Homo sapiens: one gene and its partner. The protein of the gene in region 2 purifies or fractionates together with the protein of the main gene of each other region. This does not show direct contact. Each region holds a gene or a part of one and is shown on either strand. Other genes may lie near its edges.

Region 1 (3,463 bases), on a different chromosome or scaffold from region 2:
GAAAAGAAATATAAGCAATATCCCACACATCATTAATAAAATAAAAACTACAAATTCATTTCCATAAGGAAAGATCCAAATGGCTAGATTCTTCATCTGAATCAGAAATCATTGTTTCTCGTTATTTTCATGGCAACCCCGCATTTCGTTTAATCAGAGGGTATTTTATAGCACTGATTTACGCAGTAGGCATAAATCAGTGTGTCCACCTGCTACACACGATAAAACCCTAAACCAAAACAACAGTGATAATAACCATCACCCTCCCTCCTCCCCCTCGAAAAACCAAAAACACTTTCTTCAGTGCTAAGAATTAACTATTAACTATCATGCTAAAGGTCAAGACTTAATGCATATTTCAAAAGAATTTAAATCAAACCACAGCTTTTCTTACAAATATACCTATACAGAGCAGATAATCAGAGGCACAAAGTGTCACTGTACCCCTCTCCTTCCACTACCTGTCCATCTTCCTCACTTTTGGTATAAAATTTAGAATAACAGGTAAGAAAATCAGTACAACTGCTGAGGAAATTGGTGTTGAAGAATTTTTCACAAAATCAGTTATCTCCCAAATAAACTTTATTTTGAAAAGAATATCACAATATAGTCATGTAAATTTAAATATGGCACACTGAGCAGTATTGACGCAAATTATATAGTCATGTAACCATGTTTCGGTCAATGTACAATATATATATGATGGTGGCCCCACAGATTATAATGGAGTTGAAAAATTCCTGTCACCTGCTAGGGATGTCTTGATCCTGACCCTGCATAGGCCTAGGCTAGTGTGTTTGTCTTGGTTTTTGACCAAAAAGTTTAAAAATTCAAAATTTAAATAGATAAAAGCTTATATAATAAGGATATAAGGAAAATATTTTTGTACAGCTATGCAATGTGTGTTTTAAGCTACGTTATTACTAGAAGAGTCCAAAAATTGTTTTTAAATAAGTTTCTAAACTAGAAAATTTACAGTAAGCTAAGGTTAGTTTTTTATTATTTCTATAAAAATTATAGAATTTTTTTTTTTGAGACAGAGTCTTGCTCCTCTGTCACCCAGACTAGAGTGCAGTGGTTCGATCTTGGCTCACTGCAACCTCCACCTCCTGGATTCAAGCAATTCTCCTGCCTCAGCCTCTCAATTAGCTGGGACTACACGCATGTGCCACCACACCTGGCTAATTATCGTATTTTTAGTAGAGATGGGGTTTAGCCATGTTGGCCCGGCTGGTCCCAAACTCATGACCTCGAGTGATCCACCCACCTTGGCCTCCCATAATGCTGGGATTATAGGCATAAGGCACCATGCCCAACCAGAAGAAAAACATTTTTTATAAATTTTAGTGTCACCTAAGTGTACGGTGTTTATAAAGTCTACAGTAGTGTACAGTAATGTCCTAGGCCTTTACATTCACTCACCACTGACTCATCCAGAGCAACTTCCAGTTCTGTAAGCTCCGTTAGTAAGTGCCCTATACAGGTATACCATATATATATATATACACACACCATATATATATATACTATATATATATATACCATATATATGGTATATATATATATATAGTATATATATATATATATATTTTTTTTTTTAGATGGGGAGTCACTCTGTCACCCAGGCTGGAGTGCAGTGGTATGATCATGGCTCACTGCAGCCTTGACCTTGCCAGGCTCAGGTGATCCTCCAACCTCAGCTTTTGTACTTTTAGCAGAGACGGGGTTTCGCCATGTTGCCCAGGCTGGTCTTGAGCTTCTGGGCTCAAGCAATCCACCTGCTGAGGCAGCCTCCCAAAGTGCTAGGATTACAGGCGTGAACCACTGCACCTGACCAGATTTTTTACAAAATCTTTTATACCATATTGTTATTGTTGTAGTATCTTTTCTGTGTTTAGATGTTTGAATAAACAGACACTTGCCATTGTGTTACAATTGCCTACATGATTCAGAACAGCAACATGCTGTAGCCTAGGAGCAATAGGCTATATACATGTCCTACATGTGTAGCAGGCTACACTATCTAGGTTTGTGTAAGTACACTCTATGATGTTCCCACAACGATGAAATAACCTAATTAGACATTTCTCAGAGTGCATCTCCATCATTAAGTGAGGTATGACTGTACATGTGAAGTCACAGTTCATGTCTGATTATTCCCACTAATAGAAGAGTACAAAGGTACAGTGAAACCAAAAAAAAGAGCAGATAACTTAAAAACCATAACTTGTGCATATGTTTTCATTTTATACTTGTGTCCAAATGTTTAGATGAGAACTGATACAAATTCACAGGTTTTTAAAAATGCTGCCTGAATAATCAAAACTCTTTTTACTTTTCTTGCCCTACTATAGATAGCATCAGTAATGTTTATACAGAGTAGCACCATCGGACAAACTACTTTCCCTTCTCCCATCATAGAGTATAAGGCTGTCTGTATTATGGCTTAAAACATTAGCAATGACTTAATAGTTTTCAACATACAGCTGATTTTGTTGGAGAAAGGTGTTACAGTATAGTCTTGTTAAGAACTTTATGTTTTACTGAGGAAAATGTCAACATATAATCAGTGAAAGTGGTCTACATATGATGTAATAATTGTTCATAATTCTTTTTAAACAACAAATGGGGGTAAATATGAATGAAAGAAGTAAAACACATCTGGAACCTCGCGTTGTTCAGGGTTTTTGAGGCAATTCAGAGCTAACTGCAAGATTATGCTATGAAACTGAAGCCATTTCTATATCATAGTGAGAATTCTAATGTACCAGAAACAGGCAGAAAGCCATCTTCAGAGAATGAAGACTCAAAGATAAACAACGGCACAGCAAACTGAAGAGAGAATTAGACCCCAGGGAAATTTTCACTTTTCATTAGTAGAGGGCAGTAGAAGACACTGAACTTGGGGACTGAATACTGGTTCTGCAGGTTAGTGCTGACCCTGGGCATAACAGTCAATCTTTTTGAATGACAATTTCCTCGTCTATAAATTAGGTACAGTGAGATCCACCAGCTTGTTTTATGACTCAGAGCCATGAAAAGCGAAGATAATAATGCACTTAATATCATTTTGTACACTATAAAGGGCTACTCTTAGAAAATGAAGATTTGATAACTTTAAAAAAAAGAATTAAAGATAAAAGCCAATTTAAAATAAAATTATATATATTTTTTTCTTTTTTAAAATCCAGGATAGGTATTTATTCAATAGTAGCTGCTGTAGGTCTGCTTCTTTTTTTTTTTTTGAGATGGAGTCTTGCTCTGTCACCCAGGCTGGAGTGCAGTGGCACAATCTTGGCTCACTGCAACCTCCGCCTCCCGGGTTCAAGCAAATCTCCTGTCTCAGCCTCCCGAGTAGCTGGGACTACAGGTGTGCACCACCACGCCTGGCTAATTTTTGTATTTTTAGTAGAGACAAGGTTTCACCATGTTGGCCAGGCTGGTCTTGAACTCCTGATCTCAA
Region 2 (3,655 bases):
TTTTACACATGGACAAACTGAGGTTAATAGAAGCAAAGCTGTGATTTTGATCCCAGGAAGTCTAACCTTCAGAATTTGTGCTCTTAATCACCAGTCATTACTGCCTGAAAACCCCAACCCCTTAGTCAAATTCTAGCTCCCCATGAAAGACCACCAAAGGAAATTAAAAAAAAAAGCCTGCTAATTAGGCAAGACTGAGTTTATTGCTCACTTCCTTGACAGCATCTTAATAACGTCTTGGGCTGGGCGTGGTGGCTCATGCCTGTAATCCCAGCACTGTGGGAGGCCGAGGCAGGTGAATCACCTGAGGTCAGGAGTTCAAGACCTGCCTGGCCAACATGGTGAAACCCCTTCTCTAATAAAAATAGAAAAATTAGCGACGCATGGTGGTGCATGCCTGTAATCTCAGCTACTCGGGAGGCTGAGGCAGAAGAATCTCTTGAACCCGGGAAGTGGAGGTTGCAGTGAGCCGAGATCGTACCACTGCACTCCAGCCTGGTTGACAGAGAAAGACTCCATCTAAAAAAATAAAAAATAACGTCTCGAAGTGGGGAGGGAAAACTCAGCATATTGATGGGGTCTTGGAGTCTCGTCTAAGGTGGGTCTTTCAATGGGGGATGTGATTTGGATTGTGTAAGGATCATGATATAATAGTTAGGATTGGTGTTCACAGCAAGGTGAAATGACCAAAGATGGGGTTTTAAAGAGTCTAGGAGAGTAAATAGTGTTTTGACACAATCGATATTTATGTAACTAGCTTTTCTGGAGGCTTCTGGAATGAATAATAGGGCTATTCGCAACTCTTATCTTCCTGGGCAAGAATTTCCTAGCTTAGTAGAGTCAAGGTGATGGCGACCGCAGAACCGTGAAGTCGTGTTAATAGAGACAGTAAGCTGTGCACGAGTTGATAGTTTTGGTTCTCACTTATCCGTAACATTGGGATAATAACGTCATCCGGAAGTTGCTTGGAGAATCCAATGTGACGTTGCCTTTAATGGGATAAAGCGTGGCACAGTTTGTGTGTCATAAATGGAAGCTCTTTTCATCTCCTCTTCTTGACCCGTAACCTTTCCATAATCCTTTTCAGAGTATGGGGGAAATTCTCTCAGGAAGCCCTGCATCTTCCCCTCCATCTACAGAAATAATGTGGTCTCTGATTGCATGGAGGATGAAAGCAACAAGCTCTGGTGCCCAACCACAGAGAACATGGATAAGGATGGAAAGTGGAGTTTCTGTGCCGACACCAGTAATCTGGGGATGGGGGTTGGGTGGGTGTGGGTGGAGTCTTTCTTTCATTTGCTCAACAAACACCTCCTGAAACCCCACTGTGAGCCAGGCACTGAGTTGGGCACTGAGGATCTGGTGATGAATCCGGCAGACAGAGTTCTGGCTCACGAATAATGTCAATGATGTGATATGCCACAGGCTTTAAAATCCAAGAGAAAGGTGCCAAAATGAAATGCTCAAAATGTTAAACACCTAACCATGATGCAAATACAGAGTAAACACACGCCAGGGTTTTTAAAAACCCCAGTGTGAGCCACGAATGGTGGCTCACGCCTATAATCCCAGAACTTTGGGAGGCTGAGATGGGAGGATCACTTGAGCCTGGGAGGTTGAGGCTGCAGTGAGCTGTGATCACACCTCTGTACTCCAGCCTGGGTGACAGAGTGAGACCTTGCGTCTAAAATAAATAAATAAGCAAACAGTGAAATCACCCAACAAAAGGCTCAAACATTTGGAAAACATAATACTATACTGCTAAAGTGCACCTGTTCACAGTACAAGAGCTGAAGTGAGCCAAAAGAGCATCCCCTTGTTCCCCCTTGGGTGAGAACATGTGTGTTGGGAGACTCAGACTCAAATTTCCTCTCCTGTGTGTGTCCACAAATGACCACAGAAGCGTCATGAGTGTCGATTTCATCAGTGACAAAGTTTAGCGAGTTGACGCATTTGCACCTGTGGAATCCATGAAAGATGAGGACACTGGAATTAGTCCTCTGAGACAAATCCTCCATCCACCAGGTGCTCCTGGTGACCAGCATTCTCCTTCTCCCTCCTTCCTCCAGGGCCCTCTGTGCTTCCACTCTGCCCTTCTTCCCTATTCCAGTGCCTGCCCTATCTTCCAGCCTTTCTCATGTCCTACACTCTTGATAGCTTCTGAGGGAAGAAAATACCCAAGACCCAGTGGAAAGGAAAGGGAAGTCCTTGGGCAAAGAGGAACTAGAAGGAGTTATATTTCTGCGCCACTCCGGGCAAGGGGTCAGTCCGAATAGCTGTGGGTGGGGGGGTGTGTTGTTCCAACAACTTGGGACTTTCCTAAATAAAATAAATTATTTCTCAGCTGGTCATGGGAGATGTGACAGCAAAAATTGAGACCCATTTACCCTCTGTTGCCTCAAGCTGCTGTGGATAGAGGCTTCCAGTTTGTACTATTTATGGGGTCATCTTTCATGAGGACATCATTTACGTCCTCATCTTTCATGGATTCCACAGGTGCAAATGTGCCTACTCGCTAAACTTTGTCACTCAGAAAATTGATACTTGTGGTGCTTCTGTGGTCATTTGTGGACACACACAGAGTTAGGAAGTTTGAGTTTGAGTCTCCCAACACTCATGTTCTCAGCCAAGGGGGAACAAGGGGGTGCTCTTTCGGCTCATTTCAGCTCTTGTACTGTGAACAAAATTCTTCTTTGGCTTAGGTTTAGGTCGGCATTCTGAGCAGTGCCCAGGCAGTGTCTTCATGTGTAGGGTTTACCCAGATTTTATTTTTTAGTTTTTTTTTTTTTTTACTTTTTATATTTTGTTTTATTTTATTTTATTTTTGAGACGGAATCTCACTCTGTCGCCCAGGCTGGAGTGCAGTGGCGTGATCTCGGCTCACTGCAACCTCCGCCTCCTGGGTTCAAGCGATTCTTCTGCCTCAGCCTCCCAAGTAGCTGGGATTACAGGCGCTTGGCACCACACCTAGCTAATTTTTGTATATATGTATTTTTTTAGTAGAGATGGGGTTTCACCACGTTGGCCAGGCTGGTCTCAAACTCCTGACCTCAAGTCATCTGCCTGCCTCAGCCTCCCAAAGTGTTGGGATTACAGGCATGAGCCACAAAGCGCAGCCACATTTTATATTTTAGAGACCGGATCTCCATCTGTCACCTAGGCTACAGTGCAGTGGTGCAATCATGGCTCAATGCCGCCTCGACCTCCCAGGCTCCAGCAATCCTCCTGCCTCAACCTCCCGAGTAGCTGGGACTACAGGCATACACCACACCCAACTAATTAAAAAAATTTTTTTTGTAGGGACGGGGTTTCACTATGTTGCCCAGGCTGGTATTGAACTCCTGGCTTCACATGATCCTCCTGGCTCAGCCTCACAACTGAGCTGGGATTAAATGCGCGCGATTAAATGCTGGGATTAAAGGCGCGAACCACCACACTCAGCCCCAATTTGAAATCTAGGGTGGGCCTGAAGCCCACGCCTCTACGACAGTGTGAAGCCTGAGGAGTAACCTTTGTTTTATCCCCTTCTGCTTCCTAGGAATTTCCGCGTTGGTCCCTGGCTTTCCTTGTCACTTTCCGTTCAACTATAAAAACAAGAATTATTTTAACTGCACTAACGAAGGATCAAAGGAGAACCTTGTGTGGTGTGCAACTT

The links. Proteins that work in one complex are often made in the same cells at the same time.
Region 1: the proteins of ELSPBP1 (region 2) and FKBP14 purify together in Homo sapiens (co-immunoprecipitation; 2 studies listed by BioGRID and IntAct, with this or other methods). This does not show direct contact.

What each region holds. Positions count from the first base shown.
Region 1 is NC_000007.14:30,010,023-30,013,485, forward strand, and holds the end of FKBP14 (peptidyl-prolyl cis-trans isomerase FKBP14 precursor), read right to left. Parts: 3' UTR 565-3,463; downstream 1-564. UniProt on the Homo sapiens protein: PPIase which accelerates the folding of proteins during protein synthesis. Has a preference for substrates containing 4-hydroxylproline modifications, including type III collagen. May also target type VI and type X collagens.
Region 2 is NC_000019.10:48,018,632-48,022,286, forward strand, and holds part of ELSPBP1 (epididymal sperm-binding protein 1 precursor), read left to right. Parts: intron 1-1,087; coding exon 1,088-1,246; intron 1,247-3,538; coding exon 3,539-3,655.